Linked DNA regions of Homo sapiens. The protein of the gene in region 1 interacts with the protein of each later gene in a biochemical or structural test. Each region holds a gene or a part of one and is shown in the gene's direction. Other genes may lie near its edges. The genes, in order: PTPN23 and WDR4.

Region 1 (8,514 bases):
AACCCAGCAGTACTAGCAACTATTGCCAGTATACTACCCATCAGTAAATTTTTGGATACATTTTCATTTAGTCTACTGAGTGAAGATATTTTCTTTTTTCTTTTTCTGAGACCTAGTCTTACTCTGTCACCCAGGCTGGAGTGCAATGGCGCGATCTCAGCTCACTGCAACCTCTACCTCCCAGGTTCAAGTGATTCTCCTGTCTCAGCCTCCTAAGTAGCTGGGACTACAGGCGCCCACCACCACGCCCGGCTAATTTTTTGTATTTTTAGTAGAGACAGGATTTCAACATGTTGGCCAGGCTGGTCTCGACCTCCTGACCTCAGGTAATCCACCTGTCTCGGCTTCCCAAATTGCTGGGATTACAGGTGTGAGCCACCGCGCCCCGCCTGGTGAAGATATTTTCTATGTCAGTTATTCAAAATTAGTACAAGGCCAGGTGCAGTGGCTCACGCCTGTAATGCTATCACTTTGGGAGGCTGAGGCAGGTGGATCACTTGAAATCAGGAGTTCGAGACCAGCCTGGCCAACATGGCGAAACCCCCTCTCTACGAAAAATACAAAAATTAGTCGGGCATGGTAGCAGCGCATGCCTGTAATCCCAGCTACTAGGGAGGCTAAGGCAGGAAAATTACTTGAACCCAGGAGGTGGAGGTTGCAGTGAGCCAAGATCGCACCCCTGCATCCAGCCTGGGCAACAGAGTGAGACTGTCTCAAAAAAGAAAAGCTAGAAATTATTACACTTAGTAAGGAAGGCACGTGAAAAACTGAGATAGGCCAAAAGCTAGGCCTCTTGCACCAGATCACCAAGTTAGGAATGCAAAGAAAAAATTCTTGAAGGAAATTAAAAAAGAATCGAATGATGTCATATCTCTGGATATCAGATTCTCCCCCTTCCCCGGGATTTGCTGGGTTTTTTTGTGTGTTTTTGATTGTTGTAGGCTACCCCTGTGCCAAGAATCAGCCTGAAATGTAAACTTAAAGTTTTTTTTTTTTTTTTCCCGAGACAGGGTTTCGCTCTGTCGTCCAGGCAGGAGTGCAGTGGCACAATCACGGCTCACTGCAGCCTCCATCTCCCCAGTTCAAACCATCCTCCCACTGCAGCCCCCAAGTAGCTGGGACTACAAGTGCACACCACCGCATCCAGCCAATTTTTAAATTTTTTGTAGAGATGGGGTTCCCCTGTGTTGCCCAGGCTGGTCTCAAACTCCTGGGCTCAAGTGATCTTCTGGCCCCAGCCTCCCAAAGTGTTGGGATTAAAGGCATGAGCCGCAGCACCCGGCCTTGTAAACTTAAGGTCTTCACAGGTCTTTTCTGAGCCTGTACCATTCCCTGCACATGTGCAGACTTTCTCATTTGCCCTATATATGTGGTTGCTTTTGAACATCTTACTCTTTAGTGTCTGCCTCCCAAAGGAGGAAAAAGAGAAAAATGAAGAAGGGAAAAGATGCCAGGCCTTTAGATCCCTTGGAAGTTCCTTCAGCTAGAGGTGAAGAAGCTTACAGCCGTGGAGGGAGGTGCAATAGTGGAGGAGCTGCCTCTTTCTCTGTACCTCTGTGATCAGAAGCAGCAATCAGCAAGATCTCCTGTATTTGGAGGACAGAGTCCTTTTTGTCCATGCTGGCTCCCACAAGCTGCTCCTGGAACTGGTGCTGGGGGTGGGGGATGGGTGGCTGCTACTATGGTAGGGGCTGAAATTGACCAAAATTAATGGCAGTGAGCTGTACTGTCAAAGCCTTTGCCTAGAAGTTGCAAGCCTTTAATAGACTCCAGAGTTAAGTCAGATTCTGCCAGTGCAGCTTGTCTTGGTGGGGAGACCAAGCTTCTTCTTATGCTGTCTTCTCAGAACCCTCCTCATAAGTTGAATCTTTAAAAAGGGTTTATTTGAACAAAGTTTGAAAACTAGTGAGATAATCTTAGCCCCTGGGGCAACCGTCATTTTGCACACACAGGCACACACTACACACAAGGACGCAACACACCCTAGAAGGAGCATTACCACCAATCTCCAAAGCATCCTCTGAGACATATCCTCCAAAGCATAAGGCAGGCAACCTGCACAGAGCAATGGGCTGGGTAGAGCAGCCCCTGAGAGAGCTGTGAGCCAGCAGCCTTCAGACCTGTGCTTTTCCAGTGCGAAAAAAGCTCACACATGGCCATCTGGGGTAGCCACTTCCCCTTCCTGGGACTTGGTTTAATTTATCCCAGCAATGTGGGAGTTGGACTAGATCACTGTTTTTTTTGTTTTTGTTTTTAAAGACAGAGTCTCACTCTGTCACCCAGGCTGGGGTGCAGTCTATCTTGGCTCATTGCAACGTCTGCCTCCTGGATTCAAGCGATCCTCCTACCTCAGCCTCCTGAGTACCTGGGACAAGTATGCACCACCATGCCTGGCTAATTTTTGTATTTTTTGTAGACATGGAGTCTCGTATATTCCCCAGGCTGGTCTTAAACTACTGGCCTCAAGCAATCCTCTGCCTCAGCCTCCGAAAATGCTGGGATTACAGGCGTGAGTCACCACGCCTAGTCTAGATCACTGTTCCTTATACTTGTGAAACCCCAGAACAAATTTTCTTACATAGGACGTTGATAATAATCTTTCAGTGAAAAAGTTATTGGAAGCTTTAGGCAGTCCTCTTTCCCTGATCTGAGCCTCAGTTTCCTCATCTGTAAAACCAGGGTTTGAATAGTTGTTTCTAGGAAGACTTTCCTTTTTAAACTCTGAAATAAATTCTTGGCTCTGTGATTACAGGGAATAAAACTGACAGGTGCAGGGGATGCTATGGGGGCATCACAGCATCAAGCTCTCTCTCAGACTCCTCTGTGCGGCTCTGCGCAGCTCGTCTGAGAGTCTGACAGACCAGGCTAGAACCACAGGGGGCTGCATTCTTGGGTGGATTAAAGGGTACAGGTGATCTCTTGGATCTGGAGGGGAGACTGCTTCCATTGTTTCCCAAAGATGGTTTTAGGAAGTACAAGACAAATTTTATTTTATTATTTATTTATTTTTGACACAGAGTTTCACTCCTATTGCCCAGGGTGGAGTGCAATGGCACAACCTCGGCTCACCACAACCTCTGCCTCCAGGGTTCAAGCGATTCTCCTGCCTCAGCCTCCCGAGTAGCTGGGATTACAGGCACTCGCCATCACGCCCAGCTATATTTTGTATTTTTAGTAGAGACAGGGTTTCTCCATGTTGGCCAGACTGGTCTCAAACTCTCAACCTCAGGTGATCCACCCGCCTTGGCCTCCCAAAGTGCTGGGATTATAGGTGTGAGCCACAGCACCCGGCTTTTATTTTATTTTATTTTATTTATTTTGTTTTATTATTTTATTTTTTGAGATGGAGTCTCACTCTGTTGCCCAGGCTGGAGTGCAGTGGCGCAATCTCGGCTTACTGCAAGCTCCGCCTCCCGGGTTCACGCCATTCTTCTGCCTCAGCCTCCCAAGTAGCTGGGACTACAGGTGCCCGTCACCATGCCTGGCTAATTTTTGTATTTTTAGTAGAGACAGGGTTTCACCTTGTTAGCCAGGGTGGTCTTGATCTCCTGACCTCGTGATCCGCCTGCCTCGGCCTCCCAAACTGCTGGGATTACAGGCGTGAGCCACTGCGTCCGGCCTTTTATTTTATTTTTTGAGATAGGGTCTCACTCTGTTGCCCAGGCTGAAGTGCAGTGGCATGATCATGGCTCACTGCAGCCTCCACCTCCCAGGCTCAATCACTTCTCCCCCTTCCCAAGCCTGTAGTCCTGAGTAGCTGGGACTACAGGTATGCATCACCGCACCTGGCCAATTTTTGTATTTTTTGTAGAGGCGGAGTCTCGCCATGTTCTTCAGGCTGGTCTCAAAATCCTGGGCTCAAGTGATCCTCCCACTTTGGCCTCCCAAAGTGCTGGGATTATAGGCATGAGCCACCATGCCCGGCCAAGATTTTTCAATACTTTTATATGTGCTATTTTAGTGAGTATTGAAAAAAACTGTGTGGCTAGCGCATCACACCTGTGATTTTAGAGCTGTTATTGCTTAGGATGTGGCTCTTAATTTTAAAAATGGATTGTTTAAAGAAAAATGTTAAGTACAAGTGGTATTTGGATATGGCAGAGGTCATGATGGAGGGGTATGATAAGAATGACTAGATTTGAGAAGCATTGGCCTAATGCTGTGAGCTGCAGCTGTGACATGCCTTATCCTTGCACTGGGCATTCTAGAAGCCTCACTACCAGGGAGATTATCATCCCTGTTTAAAGAAGAGACTGAGTTTCAGAGTCTCCCAAGACACTGCTGGGAAGTGGTGTAGAGTACAACTGGTGCCTGACTTTTCTGTTCCACTGTCCCCAGGGTGTATGTACCCCATCTGAGAGCATCCCTGCTGGCAGCTCAGAGCCGAGCTCCCAGAGTGGAGTGTCCTGGAGGATTTCTTCTGGCTAAGTCCTAGTGAGAGGCTCTGGTCCTCTCTGCAGGGGGCTGAGGGCAGACAGGTGTCAAGCCATCCCCCTCACTGTGCACCTGCTCCTTGGAGGGTGTATTGTTTGCTTTTCTGTTTGTTTAAGCAGAGGGTTCATTTTTTTGTTGTTTTCCCCCCAAAATAATAGCTCTGTTGTTTATCATAAATATTGAAAATGTTTAATATAAATACATAAACAATATGAAGAATTAAATACATGTCTGTCAGATGTATACATATTTATCTATTTATTTATTATTATTATTATTATTTGAGACCGAGTCTCACTCTGTCACCCAGGCTGGAGTGCAGTGGTGCAACCTCAGCTCACTGCAACTTCTGCTCCCCGGATTCAAGTGATTCTCCTGCCTCAGCCTCCTGAGTAGCTGGAATTACAGGTGCGCACCATCATGCCTGGCTACTTTTTGTGTTTTTAGTAGATACGGGGTTTCACCACGTTGCCCAGGCTGGTCTCGAATTCCTGGGCTCAAGCGATCCACCCGCCTCAGCCTCCCAAAGTGTTGGGATTATAGGCGTGAGCCACCTCGCCCAGCCATATCTATCTATTTATATAGAATAAGATAAATTACTTAAATCCTGTCATTCAGCGATAATCACGGTTAACATTATGGTGTACAGTCTTCTGAATTTTCTTTTTGTTTATGTACCTATTTGTGGGTTTTTTTGTTTTTTCTTTTGAGACAGAGTTTTTCTCTTGTTGCCCAGCCTGGAGTGCAATGGCATGATCTCAGCTCACTGCAACCTCCGCCTCCCAGATTCAAACGATTCTCTTGCCTAAGCCTCCCGAGTAGCTGGGATTACAGGCACACACCACCACACCCAGCTAATTTTTGTATTTTTAGTAGAGACGGGGTTTCACCATGTTGGCCAGGCTGGCATCGAACTCCTGACCTTAGGTGATCCATCCGCCTTGGCCTCCCAAAGTGCTAGGATTATGGGCGTGAGCCACCTTGCCTGGCCTGTGTACCCATTTGGATATCAGTATTTGTATGATCCCATTTGTTACATTCTTTTTTTTTTTTTTTGAGACGGAGTCTCGCTGTCGCCCAGGCTGGAGTGCAGTGGCGCGATTTCGGCTCACTGCAGGCTCCGCCCCCCGGGGGTTCACGCCATTCTCCTGCTTCAGCCTCCCTAGTAGCTGGGTCTACAGGTGCCTGCCACCACGTCCGGCTAATTTTTTGTATTTTTAGTAGAGACGGGGTTTCACCGTGTTAGCCAGGATGGTCTCGATCTCCTGACCTCGTGATCCTCCCGCCTCGGCCTCCGAAAGTGCTGGGATTACAGGCGTGAGCCACTGCACCTGGCCACATTCTTTTCTTTTTTTTTTCCCCCAATAGCATGCCATAGGCATCTTAACATATGAGTAACTAGAGACTCTTGTCTTTAGTTTTCATGGCTGCAGCATATTCTCTTGTGAGGCGCCTTGACATAATTAATTTAAAACAGTCCCCTTTAGTGGGAATTTTGGTGGGTATCCAGTTTTACCTTTTGCTTTTTTTGAGAGACAGGGTCTTGCTTCATCACCCAGGCTGGAAAACAGTGGCACAACCATAGCTCACTGCAGCCTTAACCTCCCAGGCTCAATCGATCTTTTCCCGTCGGCCTCCCAAGGAGCTGGGACCAAAGGCACCATCACGCCTAGATAATTTTTAAAATTCTTTTTTGTTGAGACAGGGTCTTGCTACATTGCCCAGACTGGTATCTAACTCCTGGCCTCAAGCGATCCTCCCACCTTGGCCTCCCAAAATGCTGGGACCACATGTGTGAGCCCCTGCACCTGACCTGGAGTCCAGTTTTTGACCCTGGTAATAATGCTGTGATGAATATCCTTGCGTTCATATCCAAGCATTTGCTTTCCTGGAAGTCTGTTACTGTAAACTTTTAGATACAGAACTGTAGGTCATGCTGAGTGTGGCAGCTCACACCTTTAATCCCATCACTTTGGGAGGTAGAGATGGGAGGATCACTTGAGCCCAGGAGTTTGAGAACAGCCTGGGCAACATGGCAAAACCCTGTCTCTATTAAATTCAAAAAACTGTGGGCCAAAAGTTAAGTAGAGTAAAAAACTTAAAACATGTTGCAAACTGCTTTTCAGATGTTTGAGATGGGCTGGGCACAGTGGCTCATGCCTGTAATCCCAGCACTTTGAGAGGCTGAGGCGGGTGGATCACAAGGTCAAGTGTTCGAGACCAGCCTGGCCAAAATGGGGAAACCCCGCCTCTACTAAAAATACAAAATTAGCCAGGCATGGTGGCGTGTGCCTGTAGTCTCAGCTAATTGGGAGGCTGAGGCAGGAGAATTGCTTGAACCCAGGAGGTTGCAGTGAATACTGCATTCCAGCCTGGGTGACAGAATGAGACTCTTTTTTTTTTTTTTTTTTAAAAAAGGAAAAACTATGTGGGATAGATTCAGTCGGCCAGCTGCCAGCCCTGGCTTGTGGAATGTTTTGTTGAACGACTATAGGTATAGCCATGGACTTTTTGGGATCCCTTGGTGTGTGCAGTCGGCCAGCTGTGATGCATTTTCCTGGCATTTGTGAGTTAGCTGGCCTGCGTGTCCACTGCCCCATATGACAACAGGCCTGCTTCTCCCATCCTGCCCCCCAGAATGCTGTCCGTGTCCCACGAGACTTTGAGGGCTGTAGTGTCCTCCGCAAGTACCTCGGCCAGCTTCATTACCTGCAGAGTCGGGTCCCCATGGGCTCGGGCCAGGAGGCCGCTGTCCCTGTCACCTGGTGAGAGCCGCAGGCAGGGCTGGAGGATCCCACGGGGAGTCTGGGTGGTGGGGGTGCTCCTCCCCTCCCTTCCCCCTTCTCCTTGCTGCATAGGATGGGGAATGGCCTCATATGGTCCCCCCAGGCCTCCCCACATCCCCACAATGGGGTGTTTAGTCCCCTTACCTAATCTCAGGGCCCTGGCTAGCTCCTGCCCTCGAGATAACTGGGGTGCCATGTCTGCAGGACAGAGATCTTCTCAGGCAAGTCTGTGGCCCATGAGGACATCAAGTACGAGCAGGCCTGTATTCTCTACAACCTTGGTGAGCTGCCTGATCCCTTCCCCCGGCCCTACTCCCCAGTCCTGCCAGCCTAGCTTTCAGCTCTTCAGATGGCCACAAAGGCAGTGGGCTGATAAAGGGAGGACTCCAGGATTCCCGCCCCTCCACTGACCTCCCCACAGCCCTGCCAGCTCCTCCACTGTTTTCTGGGCTGGGCCCGTGGGGAGCCTCTGCTGGGGCGAGGCTCTACTGGGCTGGCTGCCACACAGAGTTGCCACTGTGTGCTCTGTCTGGGAGAGAGGGCCTTTCTTCTTTGACTGGACAGCCCCTCCCCACTGTGGTTTTGGGCTGCTTCAGGCAGGAGGAGAGTGTGGCTGGCCTCAGCTTACCCTGCTAGTCAGCCTTAGCCTGGCTCAAGGGAGAAGCTTGGGGAGCCCCAGAGTTCTGTGCAAACATCCCTGAAGCTTCAAGATTGGACCCCTTGGACAGGAGCCCTTCCATCCTCTGCCAAATGCAGAGCAGGAGACTGAGGGCTGGGCAGGACTTCTGAGTTTCCCTGTTCCCTCCAGCTTGGGTGTCCTTGGACTCGTTGCCCTGGTTCTCAGAGCCATGTTGTCCTGATTGTGGATAACAGCAGTGCCCCCTCTGTCTCACCTTCACATGGGTGTGAGCAGCCCCAGGCCCCTAACACTGTCCCCTCCCTCCCCAGGAGCGCTGCACTCCATGCTGGGGGCCATGGACAAGCGGGTGTCTGAGGAGGTGAGGAGAGGGGCAGTAGTGGAACATGTGGACATACCAGGGAGGGGCAGCCTCCCAAGTATGGATGAATCCTGACCCATGGAGTGGACACAGGCCATCCTCCCACTCCCTCCCAGGGCATGAAGGTCTCCTGTACCCATTTCCAGTGCGCAGCCGGCGCCTTCGCCTACCTACGGGAGCACTTCCCTCAAGCCTACAGCGTCGACATGAGCCGCCAGATCCTTACGCTCAACGTCAACCTCATGCTGGTGAGGAGGCGCCCTGGTTGGAGTGGAGTTGAATCCAGGGAAGGGGAT
Region 2 (8,817 bases), on another chromosome or scaffold:
TACCATATGACTCAACAATTCCATTCCCAGTGGAATGTTCACAACACCATTATTCATTATAGCCAAAAGGTGGGAAATCCCAAACTGCCTATCAACCAATGAGCAGATAAACAAAATGTGATATATGTGATATATGCATTCAGTGGAATATTATTCGGCCATGAAAAGCAGTGAAGTACTGATACATGCTACAATATCCATGAACCTTGGAAACCTAATATTCAGTGACAGAAGCCAGATTATATGAAATGTCCAGACTAGCAAAATCCATAAAACAAAGTAGATTAATGGTTACCAGGGGTTTATGGGGAGGGTGAAAGGGGGAGTGACTGCTACTGGGTTTAAGATTTATTTTGTGGGTGATGAAAATGTTCTAAAATTGTGGTGATGGATGCACAATTCTGTATATATACTAAAACCCACTGAAATGTACACATTACCACATATCAGGTGGATTACAACAGTAAGAATTTATTCTCACAGTTCTGGAGGCCAGAAGTCTGAAGTCAGGGTGTTGGCTGGGCCACGCTCCTTCTGAAAGGTCTAGGGGAGAATTCTTCCTCATCTTTCTCTTGGCTTCTGGTGTTGCCAGCAATCCTTGAATTATGGCCACATAACTTCAATCTCTGTTTCTGTCTTCATCTGGCATTCTCCTCTGTCTTCTCCCTTCTCTTCTCAGTACACATAACATTCGATTTAGGGTCCACCCAAATCCAGGATGCTCTCATTTTGCAATCCTTAACTTAATCACATTAGAAAAGACCCTTTCCCCAAAAAAGGTCACATCCCCAGTTTCCAGGGGTGGACATACATTTTAGGGGGCCACCTTTCAACCCACTACAACCACCATGAAATTAATGGGTCTTTGTCCATTTTTGTTTTTACACAATTTTTTTTTTAACTGAAGGACCATAAGACAATGCTTATGTCGTCTTGCCAGTTTGTAAAAAAAAAAAAAAAAAGGGTAACTTCTTGCCCATTTTTCTTTTTTTTTTTTTTTTTGAGACAGAGTCTCACTCTGTTACTCGGGTTGGAGTGCAGTGGCGCAATCTCGGCTCACTGCAATCTCCACCTCCTCGGTTCAAGTGATTCTCGTACCTCAGCCTCCTGAGTATCTGGGACTACAGGCACGCACCACCACTCCCAGCTGATTTTTCTATTTTTTTTTTTTTTTTTTTGAGACGGAGTCTTGCTCCGTCACCCAGGCTGGAGTGCAGTGGCATGATCTCGGCTTATTGCAACCTCCACCTCCCACGTTCAAGCGGTTGTCCTGCCTCAGCCTCCCAAGTAGCTGGGACTACAGGCGTCCGCCACCATGCCCGGCTAATTTTTGTATTTTTAGTACAGACGGGGTTTCACTATGTTGGCCAGGCTGGTCTCAAACTCCTGACCTCAGATGATCCACCTGCCTTGGCCTCTCAAAGTGCTGGGATTACAGGCGTTAGCCACTGCGCCCAGCCTGATTTTTGTATTTTTAGTAGAGATGGGGTTTCCCCATGTTGGCCAGGCTGGTCTCAAACTTCTGACCTCAATTGATTCTCCTACCTTGGCCTCCCAAAGTGCTGGGATTACAGGTGTGAGTCACCGTGCCTGGCCTTTTTGCCCATTTTTCTATTGTGCTAATGGAAGGATTCTCAGGTTCCTAATACCTTTTGCTCAGGACAGGACTAGAAATACAACACAACAATCCATAAGTTTTTTTTTTCTTTTTTCTGAGATGGAGTTTCACCCTTGTTGCCCAGGCTGGAATGCAATGGGTGATCTTGGCTCACTGTAACCTCCACCTCCTGGGTTCTAGTGATTCTCCTGCCTCAGCCTTCTGAGTAGCTGGGATTACAGGTGCATGCCACCAAGCCCAGCTAATTTTTGTATTTTTAGTAGAGATGGGGTTTCACCGTGTTGGCCAGGCTGGTCTCAAACTCCTGACCTCAGGTGATCTGCTCGCCTTGGCCTCCTAAAGTGTTGGGATTACAGGTGTGAGCCACTGCACCCGGCCAATCCATAAGTTTCTTAATTGAAAAAGAAAGCCCACACTCACTCTAGGCTAATGTAATCAATGATTTATAAAAATGGCCATAGTTGGGCCGGGTGCAGTGGCTCACGCCTGTAATCCCAACACTTTGGGAGGCCGAGGCGGGCAGATCACCTGAGGTCAGGAGTTTGAGACCAGCCTGACTAACATGGATCATGGATCACGCCTGTAATCCCAGCACTTTGGGAGGCCAAGGTAGGAGAATCAATTGAGGTCAGGAGTTTGAGACCAGCCTGGCCAACATGGTGAAACCCCGTCTCTACTAAAAATACAAAATTAGCTGGGCACGGTGGCACATGCCTGTAATTCCAGCTACTTGGGAGGCTGATGCAGAATCGCTTGAACCCGGGAGGCAGAGGTTTTGGTGAGCGGAGATCACGCCATTGCACTCCAGCCTGGGCAACAAGAGTGAAACTCCGCCTCAAAAAAAAAGAAAAAAAGAAAGCCATAGTTTTTATGAGCTTGTTGATCTATATCTAGGACTACAAGGAAGATATGCATGCTACAGACATTTGTACCTAGCAGTAGGTGCTACTGTAACATGTGGCATTAGCTTTGGACTAGAAGTCTGGAAAAGCAGTGGGGAAACTGGTAGTGAACACTGGAACAATGGTGAGGAAAACTACGGGAGGTGGACAAATGGTGAACAACTCTATGTCACGGTGAAGGATTTGTAAAATTGTTGCCCTTCAGTAAGATGGGCAGAGAAAAAGGCAACTACTGAACTCTGGGACTTGAAAAAGATCATATCAGTATAATGTTGAGATTAACCTGTGTTTCTTTTGCTTGAATATGTTGAGACACTTATAGAAAAGAGTGTGGTTAAAAACAAACAAACAAACAAACTGGCCAGCAGAATTTAGAGCACACTTTGGGTTGAAGCTGGGGAAAGTATTATTAGACCCAATAGTTGGTAACAAGTTCTCAAAGTAAGTCATAACCTGGGCCAAAGATCAAATTCAGAGTGGCGCTAATAAAATATGGCCTTAAGAATAATGCTGAAGTCAAGGTGATCTCAATGATTTAAATGTTAACAAGTGGCTGGGCGCGGTGGCTCACGCCTGTAATCCCAGCACTTTGGGAGGCCGAGGCAGGCGGATCACAAGGTCAGGAGATCCAGAACATCCTGGCTAACATGGTGAAACCCCGTCTCCACTGAAAAATACAAAAAATTAGCCAGGCGTGGTGGCGGGCGCCTGTAGTCCCAGCTACTCAGGAGGCTGAGGCAGGAGAATGGCGTGAACTCGGGAGGTGGAGGTTGCACTTCAGCCTGGGCGACAGAGCGAGACTCCGTCTAAAAAAAAAAAAAAGACTAGTGGGAGTGGCTTCTTGGGCATGGAGAGCACCTGAATCAGATTCTTGAGAAGCCCATAAAGCTTTTAAGGGACTTGTAGTGAACAAAGCACCACCAGCTGCCAAAATGTGGACAGAACAGTTTAGAGTGAAAAAAGGTCTGTGGGCTCACAATTTGCTAATGACAGGAAGGAGGTTGAGAAAGTTTCTCAAAGGGCACATTCTTCAACATGGCCAAGAAGGTGCTGGAAAAGGAGGGACACCCAAGAGGGCAGAGGCAAGAGCTGTGCTGAGATACAGCCTGGGGAGATACTCCCAGGAAGCAGAACTCGGGCCTGGTTAAGACTTCTTATTCTTGTAGGGCCTGAAAACATCTTCCAGTAGGATTTCAGAATTGCTTTGGACCAGTGATTACTGTGTCTCCTCCTCTTCTCATTTTCACATGCAAGTATTTATTGTGGTTATCTGGTCCCGGCTCACCATCATATATTGCGTGCACGGGAGAGAAAATTAATCTTTTTAGTTTGTAAGTCTCTGGATCAAGAGGAGCTGCACCGGACAAGCCAATCTAAAACAGACCGTGAGATCCTAGATTTTGTGCCTGATGCTGGGATTGTAAGAGGCTTTTGGGGATCTTGGGATGAACACTGGAAACTAACCATAGTTTGGGTTGAAAATATCACTACAGTTCGGAGATTTTAAGGCATCTGTGGCTTGTCTAAGTGCAAAGATTCAGTAGGCTTACTTCTAGCGACCTCAGACTTGACGCCACCCGAGACACCCTCACCCATGACCACATCTTGGACATTTTTTTTTTTTTTGAGAGAGAGTCTCGCTCTGTCGCCCTGGCTGGAGTGCAGCGGGGGCGATCTCGACTCACTGCAACCTCCGCCTCCCGGGTTCAGGCAATTCTTCTGTCTCAGCCTCCCAAGTAGTTGGGGCTACAGTCGCACGCCACCACGCCCAACAAATTTTTGTACTTTTAGTAGAAACGGGGTTTCACCATATTGGTCAGGCTGCTCTCGAACTGCTGACTTCATGTGAGCCACGGCCCCCGGTTCATTCACTTCTTGAAGGATCATTTACCAGGCATCTAGTAGCCATCATCAGGTCCTACGTCTCTCCAGCTACCGCGGAAAAAGATCCAGAACCAGCCCTACCCCGTCTAGAGGAAAGGATGAACATTAGGCAAGTACTTGGAATCGTGCGAAGTGCACTCCATCAGATCACCTTGGTGAGTGAACTGCCAAACCCGAAACACCGAAGGCCACCAGCCACAACCCGGAGGGCGGTCACAGCACCTTTCACGCATGCTCAAGGCAGGCTCGTCCTTGAGCATGCGCGGTACGTGGGGTATACGTCATCTCTCGGCGTCTGCGCCTGGCGTCACCGACCGGTGCGGACAGGAAGAGGCTCTGGGCTGGCACATGTGTATGGCGGTGAGGCGGGCGGGTACATGGCGGGCTCTGTGGGACTGGCGTTGTGCGGGCAGACGTTGGTGGTGCGGGGCGGCAGCCGATTCCTGGCCACCTCCATAGCAAGCAGGTGAGGGGGCCTTGGTCTTGGAACAGGGAGACCAGGCTGCGGGCGCGCGTCGGGTCCTGGCGACCCCGCTTCTCCCGCACCGCCTGGTCGCACCCACTCTGGGGTGACCCCGGGGAACTCCGCTCCAGCCCACGAGTCCTCCGCCGCAGTCTCGGCCTGGCCGCGTCTCTGCGCCTGGAGGGTCCGCTTTCGCCGTCCGCTCTCGGCGTCCGCTCCCCGGCTCCGGCGCGCTCCTTGCACTAGATGGCTGGTCTGCGGTGTTCTTGCCCGGTTAGCGCCGCCGGGTCGCTTCCGGTCTCCGCGGCGCCGGCGGGGACCGGGTAGGTAGAGCACGTGGGGCGACGCTGACCAGTCAGCAAGGCCCGGCCGAACACGCTCTGCAGAACTGGGAAGAAGCGGGTCTCGGGTCTCCCTGGTGAGAAGGGAGGGGCTTACTCACTGCGAGCTCACTGACCTCCAAGCGCGCTCCCTCTTTTTGCAGGGTTGTCTGTTCCCTCTTCCCGGCCTGCATCCACTCACCTGGCCTTAATTGCTCCTTAGGGCTCCAAGTCATCTCCGACACTTACCCAACCCAAGGGTGCACGTGGAGCTCGCAGTGCGCACCTCCCTAGTGGCCCTTCGCACGGCTCGGGTTTTGCTTTCCGTAATTTTATTCTCCTTCCTTAGTGTATCGCCAGTGCTAGGACGACGCAGGGGATTTTTAACTTAGTAAATGTTTGTTGATGGAACAGTCCTAACTCAGGACTCTCGGAGCAATTAGTAGTGCTGTCAGTTTCAGCCCCTCGTTTCCTTTCCCAGGTTATTTGTGATTTCATATTTGAAACGGACGACGTGTCTGTCAGATATACTGTATATTTTTTGTTCGTTTGGTTTTAGAAAGCCAATTCGATGTTAAGTTAGGTCTCACAAAAATTGTACTCAGAAACCCGTCACATATCCCAGATGATTTTGTTTTAGAGACTCACGGTCTAATATCTGCCAGAGTGAGCTGTGGATATATTAGACATGATTTGCTTACCTTCAGTCTTTGCATTTTGAGGAAATTCTAGTGGCTGGTGGAGTTTCTGACTTGGAAGACAAGTCCACGGTTCCATATGGAAAGTTTTTTGGTGCACTCGCTTTAAAGGCTATAAATATGTACAAGATACGTGCCAGGGGGTGAGGATGGGATAAACCGAAGTTTAGGTTCAGTATGGAAAATGGGTGATTCTTATGTTGGTAAGTGCCTGGGGTCATGGGAACACTTTCAGGTAGGTGAGATATGTTTCTAAATAGTAATGGCTCTTTGAAATTTGTATACAGAATCCCACTGAACGCTCAACAGTATCAGAACATAATTTCTTTTTTTTCTTTTTTTTTTTTTTTGAGGAGTCTCGCTTTGTCGCCCAGGCTGGAGTGCAGTGGCGCGATCTTGGCTCACTGCAAGCTCCGCCTCCCGGGTTCACGCCATTCTCCTGCCTCAGCCTCCCGAGTAGTTGGGACTGCAGGCGCCTGCCACCATGCCTGGCTAATTTTTTATATTTTTAGTGGAGATGGGGGTTTCACTGTGTTAGCCAGGCTGGTCTCGATCTCCTGACCTCGTGATCCGCCCATCTCGGCCTCCCAAAGTGCTGGGATTACAGGCGTGAACCACCGCGCCCGGCCCGTAATTTCTTATAACCATGTCGCATAGATTTTGTGGTGCCTAAAAGAATAGCATATTAATTCCTGTTGAGTATTTATCCCTCATTTGTTTTACTGAACTTTTTTTTCCCACAGAACTATGCAGTATGACGTACTCCAATAAGAGATTAAGCAAATAAAGTTTGTTAACTGTTCCCTGAAATATTGTATCTAGACAGTTTTCTTGTCAAGTATACAACTTTTAATTTAATGAGTGTGCAAATATTTTTTGTTCCACAGAGAAAAAAAATCAACTTTTTTTTTTTTTTTTTAACAAAGTGCTCTTTTAAAAATCATTGTTAGGCTGGGCGCAGTGGCTCTGCCTATAATCTCAGCACTTTGGGAGGCTGAGGCGGGCAGATCATCTGAGGTCAGGAGCTTGAGACCAGCCTGGCCAACATGGCGAAACCCCGTCTCTACCAAAACTACAAAAATTAGCCAGGCGTGGTGGCAGATACCTGTAATTCCAGCTACCGGGAAGGCTGAGGCGGGAGAATTGCTTGAATCCAGGAGGGGGAGGTTGCAGTGACCTGAGATCATGCCCTTGCACTCCAGCCTGAGTGATAGAGCGAGACTCCAACTCAAAAAAAAAAAAAAAAAAAAAAATTAGGGCCAGGCGCAGTGGCTCACATGGGCCAGGCGCAGTGGCTCACACCTGTGAGCACTTTGGGAGGCTGAGGTTGGTGGATCACCTGAGGTTGGGGATTTGAGATCACCCTGATCAACATGGAGAAACCCCGTTTCTACAAAAAGTAAAAATTAGCTGGGAGTGCTGGTGCATGCCTGTAATCTCAGCTACTGGGGAGGCTGAGGCAGGAGAATCGTTTGAACCTGGGAGGCGGAGGTTGCGGTGAGCCAAGATCGTGCCATTGTACTGGAGCCTGGACAACGAGAGCGAAACTCCGTCTCAAAAAAAAAAAATTTGTTATTTCTCTCTAATGATAACTCCTTTTAAAATTATTGTTATTTCTCTTTAGTGATGATGACAGCCTCTTCATCTATGACTGCAGTGCTGCAGAAAAGAAGTCACAAGAAAATAAAGGGTGAGATGTGGGGAAGCTTTTTCAGGGCCTGCTTTAATGGTTCGATAATGGGACCAGAGGGTCTAAGAAGCAATTGTTGTCCTACTTGCTGAATTCTTAGCTTCTGTCACACAGTGGTGCAGATAAGTAGCACCTCAGGAGAGACATGTAAAAGTAACTTTTAGGTTAGGCATTAAGAGTACATTGTTGGCTGAGCACGGTGGCTTATGCCTGTAATCCCAGCACTTTGGGAGGCCAAGGTGGGTGGATCACCTGAGGTCAGAATTTCCAGACCATCCTGGCCAACATGGCGAAACCCTGTCTCTACTAAAAATAAAAAAGTTAGCTGGGCGTGGTGGCAGGCACCTGTAATCCCGTCTACTTGGGAGGCTGAGGCACAAGAATCACTTGAACCTGGGAGGCGGAGGTTGCAGAGAGCTGAGATTGCGGCATTGCACTCCAGCCTGGGGAATAGAGCAAGACTCTGTCTCCCAAAAAAAAAAAGAGTACAGTGTTAGTGCCGGGTGCGGTGGCTCATGCCTATAATCTCAGCACTTTGGGAAGCCAGGGTGCTGACTGAGGTCAGAAGTTCAAAGCCAGCCTTGCCAATGTGATGAAACTCCATCTCTACTAAAAATAGCCAGGCATGCTGGTGGGCGCCTGTAGTCCCAGCTACTTGGGAGGCTGAGGTGGGAGAATCACTTGAACCTAGGAGGCGGAGGTTGCAGTCGGCCGAGGTTGCGCCACCGCACTCTCCAACCTGGGTGACACAGCAAGACTCCGTCTCAAAAAAAAAAAAAAAAAAAGCACAGTGTTAGGACTTTTCTAAATACTTTTAGTTTCTGTCAGTAATCACATCTTACTGGCTCCTTGAAGTAATGGTTGAAGGCGGGTGTAGGAAGTTAACTTCAGCTAATTGAGATATAAAAGTAGAGCATGTGAGTGTTTCGTATGGTGGCTTTCTTTAGTTATCATTGGTATTGTGGCTCAGTTTGTTTTATCGTTATTATTATTTTTTGAGACAGGGTCTCTCTGTTACCCCGGTTGGAGTGCAGTTGCACAAACATAACTCCCTGCAGCCTCGACCTCCTGGGTTCAGGTGATCTCCCGCCTCATCCCCCTAAGTACCTGGGACTACAGGCACATGCCAACATACCTAATTTTTTTTTGAGATGGAGTCTTGCCCTGTTGCCAGGCTGGAGTGCAGTGGCGCTATCTTGGCTCACTGCAACCTCCACCTCCCTGGTTTAAGTGGTTCTCCTG

What was found.
Region 2: the proteins of PTPN23 (region 1) and WDR4 form a complex in vitro, tested with the Homo sapiens proteins (one study listed by BioGRID).

The regions. Positions count from the first base shown.
Region 1 is NC_000003.12:47,397,581-47,406,094, forward strand, and holds part of PTPN23 (tyrosine-protein phosphatase non-receptor type 23), read left to right. Parts: intron 1-7,071; coding exon 7,072-7,199; intron 7,200-7,424; coding exon 7,425-7,501; intron 7,502-8,168; coding exon 8,169-8,218; intron 8,219-8,334; coding exon 8,335-8,466; intron 8,467-8,514. UniProt on the Homo sapiens protein: Plays a role in sorting of endocytic ubiquitinated cargos into multivesicular bodies (MVBs) via its interaction with the ESCRT-I complex (endosomal sorting complex required for transport I), and possibly also other ESCRT complexes.
Region 2 is NC_000021.9:42,875,460-42,884,276, reverse strand, and holds the start of WDR4 (tRNA (guanine-N(7)-)-methyltransferase non-catalytic subunit WDR4), read left to right. Parts: upstream 1-4,737; 5' UTR 4,738-4,781; coding exon 4,782-4,870; exon of another isoform or gene 4,871-5,113; coding exon of another isoform or gene 5,114-5,190; exon of another isoform or gene 5,191-5,285; intron 5,286-7,509; coding exon 7,510-7,575; intron 7,576-8,817. UniProt on the Homo sapiens protein: Non-catalytic component of the METTL1-WDR4 methyltransferase complex required for the formation of N(7)-methylguanine in a subset of RNA species, such as tRNAs, mRNAs and microRNAs (miRNAs).